Linked DNA regions of Homo sapiens. The protein of the gene in region 2 interacts with the protein of the main gene of each other region in a biochemical or structural test. Each region holds a gene or a part of one and is shown on either strand. Other genes may lie near its edges.

Evidence for each region.
Region 1: the proteins of CASP3 (region 2) and ARNT form a complex in vitro, tested with the Homo sapiens proteins (one study listed by BioGRID).

Annotation. Positions count from the first base shown.
Region 1 is NC_000001.11:150,869,963-150,874,555, forward strand, and holds part of ARNT (aryl hydrocarbon receptor nuclear translocator), read right to left. Parts: intron 1-4,593. UniProt on the Homo sapiens protein: Required for activity of the AHR. Upon ligand binding, AHR translocates into the nucleus, where it heterodimerizes with ARNT and induces transcription by binding to xenobiotic response elements (XRE).
Region 2 is NC_000004.12:184,638,768-184,643,970, forward strand, and holds part of CASP3 (caspase-3 isoform a preproprotein), read right to left. Parts: intron 1-5,203. UniProt on the Homo sapiens protein: Thiol protease that acts as a major effector caspase involved in the execution phase of apoptosis. Following cleavage and activation by initiator caspases (CASP8, CASP9 and/or CASP10), mediates execution of apoptosis by catalyzing cleavage of many proteins.

The DNA.
Region 1 (4,593 bases), on a different chromosome or scaffold from region 2:
AAAAAAGACAATACTCCACCTACCTCCTTCTCAAAAGATATCCATTGTACTATATTTCAGTAGGAAGGTGACTCTAAGTCACAATGGAAAAAATCATAACTTGGAGATTAAGAATGATGACTGTGTAGATGGACTGCCAACAATAAAATTCTGTCTCTAACTTCTAGTAGCTATGTGACTTCAGACAAGTTACTTATTCACTCTCTGTGCCTTAGTTTCCTCATCTGTAAAACAAGAATAATAATACTTACCTAATACGATTGTTATAAAAATTAAATGAGAACAGCTGGTAAGTATTACTAATAAATATTAGATATTATTATAGTTAGTACAAATTCATGATGTCAATGGCTTAATTAGTTTTATCCCTTCAAAGGTATTTCATATTAACAGTGGGTTTTACATTCATTTTTATTCCACAAACATACATTGAACTCTAATCCAACATACTAGGCACCCACTGTAAGCACTGCAATGCTCTGGTAAACAAGGAAAGCAAAAGTTCTGCTCTCATGGAACTTATATCCTAAGTATGCTGGTTTTGTTGTGTTTTTTGAGACAGGGTCTCACTCTGTCTCCTAGTCACCCAGACAGGAATGCAGTGGCACAATCATGGCTCACTGCAGCCTCAACCTCCCAGGCTCAGGTCATCCTCGCATCTCAGTCTCCCACGTAGCTGGGACTACAGGGAATGCTACCACACCCTGCTAATTTTTTGTATTTTTTTGTACAGATGGGGTTTCACCACGTTGCCCAGGCTGGTCTCAAACTTTTGGGCTCAAGCAATCCACCTACATCAGCCTCCCAAAGTGCTAGGATTACAGGTATGAGCCACCATGTCCAGCCCTAAGTATACTGTTGAATCCATAAACTTACTTGTCCATTCAACTACAATGAAAACGTGGAGGGAAAATATAAAATGGGCCTCAGAGGGTGGCTCACACCTGTAACCCCGGCACTCTGGGAGGCCGAGGCAGGAGGATTGCTTGAGCCCAGGAGTTTGAGACCAGCCGGGGCAATATAGTGAGACCCGGTCACTATCTAAAATAATAAAAACTTTAAAACAAGAAAATACATTGACGAAATTATGAAAAGTGACATAAATTTGAAGAGTTTATGTGAAAAGTTGGAGACAGTTGCTACAGACTAGACATAAAGATTAGCAACAAAATAGGAAAGTGCAGCCTGGCATATAGAAGGAACTTAATTATCCACTCCTTTCCCTGGGTTTGTCTCCTTAAGTGTAAAATGATAGGTGTTGTCATATTTCCAACCTGAAGATTCACTGATGTCTACTTACTAAAGTCATTATGGCATATTAGGCAGTCGTGGTTTTTTTTTTTTTTTTTTTTTTTTTAGACGGAGTCTCACTCTGTCGCCCAGGCTAGAGTGCAGTGGTACGATCTCAGCTCACTGCAACCACCACCTTCCAGGTTCAAGCGATTCTCCCGCCTCAGCCTCCCGAGTAGCTGGGATTACAGGCACCTGCCACCATGCCTGGCTAATTTTTGTATTTTTAGTAGAGACAGGGTTTCTCCATGTTGGCCAGGCTGGTCTTGAACTCCTGACCTCAGGTGATCTGCCCACTTCGGCCTCCCAAAATGCTAGGATTACAGGCATGAGCCACCATGCCCGGCCAAGGCAGCATTCTTAAAAACAGATGGCGGCGGAGCATGGCGGCTCACGCCTGTAATCCCAGCACTTTGGGAGGCCAAGGTGGGCGGATCACCTGAGGTGAGGAGTTCAAGACCAGCCTGGCCAACATGGAGAAACCCTGTCTCTATTAAAAATAAAAAATTAGCCGGCGTGATGGCAGGTGCCTGTAATCCCAGCTACTCGGGAGGCTGAGGCGGGAGAATAGCTTGAACCCAGGAGGCGGAGGTTGCAGTGAGCCAAGATCACGCCATTGCACTCCAGCCTGGGCGACACAGTAAGACCCTGTCTCAAAAAAAAAAAAAAAAAAAAAAAAAGGCCTTTGCAATATAATAAAATACTATCTCTTTTTTTGTTGGGGGACAGGGTCTCACTCCAACACCCAGGCTGGAGTACAGTGGCATGATCACAGCTCACTGCAGCTTCAACTTTCCAGGCTCAGGTGATACTCCCATCTCAGCCTCCCAAGTAGCTGGGACTATAGAAGTGCACCACAGTGCCCGGAAAATTTTTTGTATTTTTTGTAGTAAAGGGGTTTCGTCACGTTGTCCGGGCTGGTCTCAAATTCCTGGGCTCAAGCAATCGGCCTGCCTCGGCCTCCCAAAGGGATTAGAGGCACGAGCCACCACACCTGGCCATAAAAGAATATCTTGACATCTTAACTTTACATTGCATGAATTCCTATTTTCCCATATCTGAAAAAGGTAAATAAAGGTAACAGGTAAGAATTGTGTTAATTGACGCAGTTAAAACTAAGTTATATAGGTGAAAATTAGCTAAAAAAAATTTTCTTCCTAAATGACAGCCTTACAAACCCAAACGGTATTACCCTTTTCCTTCTACATTCTTCATCCACAGTAACTTGTACATAATAGCACAAAAAGAATTCTCTGCTAATGAGAATACCAGAATCAAGAGAGATAAAAACCTACACTTACTACAAACTCATTCAACATCTCTAGTTTGAATTTGGAATTGTAAATCAAATACCTAATCTCCTCCCAACTGTTCCCTCAGCCAATGCATTACAAATGACACATTCAATTTAAAAAGTGTTCCACCTTGGCTGGGCATGGTGGTCATGCCTATAATCCCAGCTCTTGGGGAGTGCCCAACGCAGGAAGATCACTTGAGGCCAGGAGTTAAAGACCAGCCTGGGCAACATAGCAAGACCCTGTCTCTAAAAAAAATTTAAAATTAGCCAGCCACGGTGGTGCACACCTGTGGTCCCACCTACTCAGGAGGCTGAAGTGGGAGGATCACATGCTCCCAGAAGGTCAAGGCTGCAGTGAGCCATGATTGTGTCACTGCACTCCAGCCTCAGTGACAGAGCAAGACCCTCTCCTATGGGGAAAAAAAATGTGTTCCTCAAAACTTGTCTAGTCCGGGCCGGGCACGGTGACTCAAGCCTGTAATCCCAGCACTTTGGGAGGCCGAGGCAGGCGGATCACAAGGTCAGGAGATCGAGACCACCCTGGCTAACAGGGTGAAACCCTGTCTCTACTAAAAATACAAAAAAAAAAATTAGCCGGGCGTGGTGGCGGGTACCTGTAGTCCCAGCTACTCGGGAGGCTGAGGCAGGAGAATGGCGTGAACCTGGGAGGCGGAGCTTGCAGTGAGCCAAGATAGCACCACTGCACTCCAGCCTGGGCGACAGAGTGAGACTCTGTCTCAAAACAAACAAACAAACAAAAAAAAAACAAAACAAAACTTGTCTAGTCCATAGATAAGAAACAGCCTAAAGTTTCATGGACCACCTACCCACCGAGTTCTACTTGCCAGTGATAAGTAGAACTAGTGAAAAATGATAGAATATGAAGAATTATCAATTCGAGAAAAAAAATCATCACAGAACTATTACTTCAACACAACTCTTAGAGAGTACCAACCATATTTTACTCTTCTTCTAATGCAGCACCACAGTGAAAAATGCAGAAGAACGTGGTCCCCTTGAAAAACACTGCAGGGCCACCAGCACAATTAACATGTTCAAGCACTATTACTAACCCTAAGGATTAACTTGGCCGGGTCAGTGGCTCACACCTATAATCCCAGCAGTTTAGGAGGCTAAGGTGGGAGGATTGCTTGAGGACAGGAGTTCAAGATCAGCCTGGGCAACATAGCAAGATCCCATTTCTACAAAAAGTTAAAAAATGTATCCAGGTGTGGTGGTGTGTGTCTGTAGACCCAGATACTCAGGAGGCTGAGGTGGGAAGATCACTTGAGCTCAGGAGTTCAAGGCTACAGTGAGCTGTGATTACACCATTGCACTACAGTCTGGGAGACAGAGCAAGAACCTGTCTGAAAAATAAAAATAAGTATTATTTTTAAAAAGGATTAACTGAAGTGAAGGTTAAAGAGTGAAATATTTTTTAAAATCTTGACAAAACTAACAAGAATTGTAAAAAAAAAAAAAAAAAAAAAAAAATTAGTACTCCAGCAAAAATACAAAGTAGAAAAAACTCAAAGAAATAGGCATGGTGTCCCTAGTCCTTAAAATGGCTCTAAGGAAAGAAGGTATGACAGTGTAGCAAAGAATTCTGACCTGAAAACATTTACTTTCACTAAGCACAGTACATTTCCACCTATGTCCCTCCATTCATTAATCTCATTTCCCAAAAAGCAACAGGCTACTGAAAAAATCCACAATGTATCTCTGATCTCTTCCTCATGATATACAAGAGCAAAGGGAGAAAAGAAAAAAGAAAATATATCTTCTGATTTGATTGAACTGAACATGGGATCAATAAGTCAGAAGAGATGGAATAATTTTTCAACATCAAAAAAGAAATCTGGTCAAAGTGTCTCACATCTGTATTCCCAACTTGGAGAGACTGAGGCAAGGCTTGCTTGAGACCAGGAGATCAAGATCAGCATGGGCAACATAGCAAGGCATCTGTCTCTACAAAAAAATTTAAAAATTAACCGCGCATGGTGGCA
Region 2 (5,203 bases):
CAGTTTATTTCTTTTGTAAGACAACACCTCGGGTCATTTCTAAGAACTGCAACTCAACACAGTTAAAACAAAAATCAAAAACTTCCCACCACAATGGTATAACTCACATAACACAATTCTACAATGCTTAGATTCCCAAGATACAGTATCAAGATGTTCCAAATCTCCATTAATCTTTATTCTTTTTTTTTTTTTCTTTTGAGGCAGGGTCTCACTCTGTCACCCAGGCTGGAGGGCAGCGGCGCAATCACGGCTCACTGCAGCTTCGATCTCCTGGACTCAAATTCTCCCGCCTCAGCCTCCCGAGTAGCTGGGATTACAGGCATGCACCACCATGTCTGGCTAATTTTTGTATTTTTTGTAGACATACGGTCTCGCTGTATTGCCCAGGCTGGTCTCAAACTCCTGAGTTCAAGTGATCTGCCCACCTAGGCCTCCTAAAGTGCTGGGATTACAGGCAAGAGCCACCGCACCCGGCCTAGTCTTTACTTTTAAAGTGGGTTTTGGAAGCCCAGCTTCTCATTTAGGGTAGTAAAATGGCCCAGGAAATGTAAAAGTAGAAACTAAAGTTTCTGCTTTCATTCTTCCATTACACAATTATATCTCACAAGGTGAACCAGTTCTTAGAATCAAAGCAACTATCACTTATTGAGCACTTAATATATACCAGGTACTTTGCAAGGCACTCAGTTTTAATCTTTTCAAAATTCTAAACGTCAGAAAACCCAACTTCTGGTGGTTAAGTGACTTTGTCGACAGTCACAATCTAAGTGACAGGGCCCTCTTCCCACTCTGCTATGCTGCCTCTGAAGAAGCCAGCTCCTTACTACTTTTCTGGAGTTCTACCAGGCATTTTCTGGCTTTTCGAAGCAAAGGTACTTCCCATGGCAATCCACCTCCCTAAATAGAGGAAAACAAGAACAAAGGCAAAACAAAAAACAAAAACAAAAAATACTGAGTGACCTTCTCCACACTCTAGAAACCCTGACAATGTCAAAAATTCCAGTCAAAATACAACTTTAACCTCACTCCTATGATAAAATCAGAAATACCAAAATAATACACAAGCCTATAACAGAACTTGCTCACCCTCAAAAGTCCTTCTAGAAAGTCCTAGGTAACTTCCCCCACTTTTAAAAATTTTAATCTTTAAAACTGTGGTGAAATAGACATAAAATTTACCACTCTTAAGCGTACAGCTCAGTGGCATTGAGTACAGTTACACTGTTGGAATCCATCCCAGGACTTTTTTATCTTCCCAAACTGAAACCTTTACCAAGGTCCCCAATTTCAAGGTCTCTTGGAAAACATCATTTCTTCCCTTCTATTAAGACAAAGCTAAGCTCCTTCCTCCCCTCTCTCCCAGTTTTGTGTGCACCCCTGGTGAGGAAAGGTGCAGCAATAATATAGAAGACAGCCAGTGCCACCATCTCAATTTAACCACAGGAGAGGGTGATGTTTGACCTTCTCCAAGAGCCAGTCTATGCTCTGCATTTCTACGAAGACTTTGCTTTTCTACCATCTTACTTCCTGTAGGCTTTCTGGAAAATCAAGGGAAGATGTGAGTATAATTGGGATAAATCATCTTTTAGTTTGTCAGTAAACAAATACTTTGTGCCAGGTATCATCCTGGGAAATAGGACAGAGTGGAAGACAAGACAAAGTTCCTATCTTCCATTAGATCTTACTTTAGATAGAAGAATAATTATACAGTAGTATACCTGTGGGGCAGGGGCAGGGGGTACCTCCCAAGTCCCCCAGTAGATGCTTGAAACCAAATACAGTACTGAGCCTATATGCAGCATATTTTTTCCTATACGTACATACCTATGAAAAAGTTTAGTTTATAACTTGGGCGCAGAAAGGGATTAACAACAATAACTAATACGGGTACCTGAACATAAACACTGCCATACCATGACAGTTGATCTGATAATCGAGACAGCTACTAAGTGACCTGCCATTAGTCACTCAGTACATATTACATATTAGTATGTCTTCACATATTAACATATTTATTAACAGTGGCTGTCTGGGTGATGGCATTACTGACACCTTATTTACTCCTTAACATTCCTCTATATCTTCTAATTTTTCTATAACATCTGCATTTTTTAAAAGTGAGAAAACAGTAACAAATATTATTCTATAAAATAATATCAACAAAGGTCAGGATTGTTCTAGCCAATTTCAACTCTTGGCCCTGTTTCAAGAGTGACAAAAATAGGGGTATTCTCCTATCAAAGTAGCCACCCTTCCTTGCCTCTATCATGCTCAGTACCATGTTCCCCTCTATCTGCCCTTTTTTCTTTCATATGTACAATAAACATGTATTAGGTACCAGGAAATCTCGAACTTCCTTGAACCATGAATATCATAGAGACCAACTTGCCCCATGCACATCAATTCAAAGCGGACAGACCACATACAAAATCATTAGCCACCTGTGGTTGAGAAACAAATTGTGGTTAACTTGATTAACTGAGAGAACAGTACAGGGTAGCTAACAAGTCTGGAAACGTAGGTGAACACATAATAGTTTACTGATATTGCATTATAATCCATGAGAAAATATCTTTGTTTCAAGACTTTATGGCCAATCTATAGAAAATCTAAAGTGAAAATCCAGTGGGCCTCATCAAAGATACACAGACTGCAAATAATGGGAAATGCTAATTAAAGCAACAATGAGGTATCATTACATACCTAGCAGAATGGCCAAAACCAGAACACCATCAACACCAAATGCTGGTGAGGATGTGGAGCAACAGGGATTCTCAATCACTGCTCGTGGAAATGCAAAATGGTACAGCCAACTCGAAAGACAGTTTGGCAGTTTCCTACAAAACTAAACATACTCTTACCATATGATCCAGCCATATGGTAAATACGCACTCTTTGGTATTTACCCAAAGGAGTTGAAAACTTATGTTCACACAAAAGCCTGCACACAGATGTTTATAGCAGTTTTATTCATAACTGTCAAAACTAGAAGCAACTAAGATGTCCTTCAGTCGGTGAATGAATAAATAAACCGTGGTATATCCAGAGAACAGAATATTACTGAGCACTAAAAAGAAATGAGCTAGCAAGCCATGAACACTTTAAATGCATTATTACTAAGTGAAAGAAGCCAGTTTGAAAAGGCCATATATACCGCATGATTCCAACTATCTGACAATCTGGAAAAGGCAAAACTATGGAGACAGTAAAAAGATCAGTGGTTGCCAGTGGCTAGGAGGGAGGGAGACAGCACAGAGAATTTTTTTTTTTTTTTTTTTTTGTTTTGAGATGGAATTTCGCTCCTTGCTCAGGCTGGAGTGCAGTGGCGTGGTCTCGGCTCACTGCAACCTCCGCCTTTAGGTTTCAAGCGATTCTCCTGCCTCAGCCTCCTGAGTAGCTGGGATTACAGGCGCATGCCACCATGCCAGGCTAATTTTTGTATTTTTAGTAGAGACGGGGTTTCACCATGTTGGCCAGGCTGGTCTCGAACTCCTAACCTCGTGATCTGCCCGCCTTGGCCTCCCAAAGTGCTGGGATTACAGGCGTGAGCCACCGTGCCCGGCCCGCACGGAGACTTTTTAAGGCAGTGAAACTACTCAGTGTGACAATATAATGGTGGATACAAGTCCTTGTAAATTTGTCCAAAACCATAGGATAAACAGCACCAAGAGTGAACTTGATTGTGAACGATGGCGTTTGGGTGATGATGACGTGTCAGTGTAGGTTCCTTTGTAAGAATGTACTACTCTGGTGCAGGATGTTGATAATGGGGGAGACTACGCACGTGTTGGGGGGCAGGTGGGATACAGGATGTCTCTGTACGTTCTTCTCAATTTTGGTTTGAACCTAAAACTGCTCTAAAAAATGAAGTCTAATTTAAAAACTGGGAAATAAGACTTAATAACTTCGGAAGCTGAACCTGGAGCTCCTGGCAGTATCCTTTCTAGCCCCCAGTCTGCCTCAAATTGGCTCTCTGAATGCATGTGCCAAATGCAGGGTTCACAGTCTGTGCTCAGGAACCCCTAAATGCTGATCAGCTTCCACAGACAACCAAGGACCTAAAGATCTCTTTTGAACACTTCTGCAAACAGTCTAGTAACTCTTACACTGAAATACTGACTTTTAATAAACTTGTGTCTTTTGCCAGCAATAAAATTGTGGGATAAAATTATTCTCTCCTTGTGACTGGTAATGGAAACTTTAAATAGTGACCAGCTTTTCAGAGTACTGTAATATACAAATACTATACAAATACTATAGTGGACTTCATTAACTTCATTATTAGTATCTGAACAACATACATTGCCTCAGTTATCAGTTTATTTTGATATACTTCTAAAAATTTATATGATGGTAGATGAAATCCTTACAGCATCAGACATGCGCACATTTGCTCTCTACTTGTCATCATCCGCTTTTTCCACATGAAAGCACCAAATCCACACTCCTGGGAGCAGAGCTTTGGTTCCCGCAAAACTCACTGAAGTGCTGCTTAGCATGACATCACCTCCATTAGCTAGTGCCCAGCAGGGTACAAATTATTCTGAGGATGGTGATCTCATCTTAGAAGGATAAAAAAATCACATCCTAAGGGAAATAGTCACTGCCTTAAATGAAAACAGAAATTTTGCCTGTAATCCCAGCACTTTGGGAGGCCGAGGCGGGCGGATCACAAGTTCGGGAGATCAAGACCATCCTGGCTAACACGGTGAAACCCCGTCTCTACTAAAAATATAAAAAATTAGCCAGGCGTGGTGGTGGGTGCCTGTAGTCCCAGCTACTCAGGAGGCTGAGGCAGGAGAATGGCGTGAACCCGGGAGGTGGAGCTTGCCGTGAGCCGAGATCGCGCCACTGCACTCCAGCCTGGGCGACAGAGTGAGACTCCGTCTCAAAAAAAAAAAAAAAAAAAAAAGAAAACAGAAATTTTGGTTTTTAGAACATTCTTATTTGACAAAATATAAATAGGAAAAATAATTGTGATTTAAAAGATTTATCCTGGCATAGCAATGGACTTAACATGAATTGTTTCTTACTGGGCTGATGTGTGTGTAATTCTGTTCAATTCAGGATGCTGCTGCTAAGAAAGGAAATTTCTGAACACATATGTTTATGGCAAAGTTCTCAGTAGACCAACTGATATTACTTAGAAACCTGGAACTCAGGTCTCAGAATCACTTGTCTAGTTCCTGGATCCCTTAAC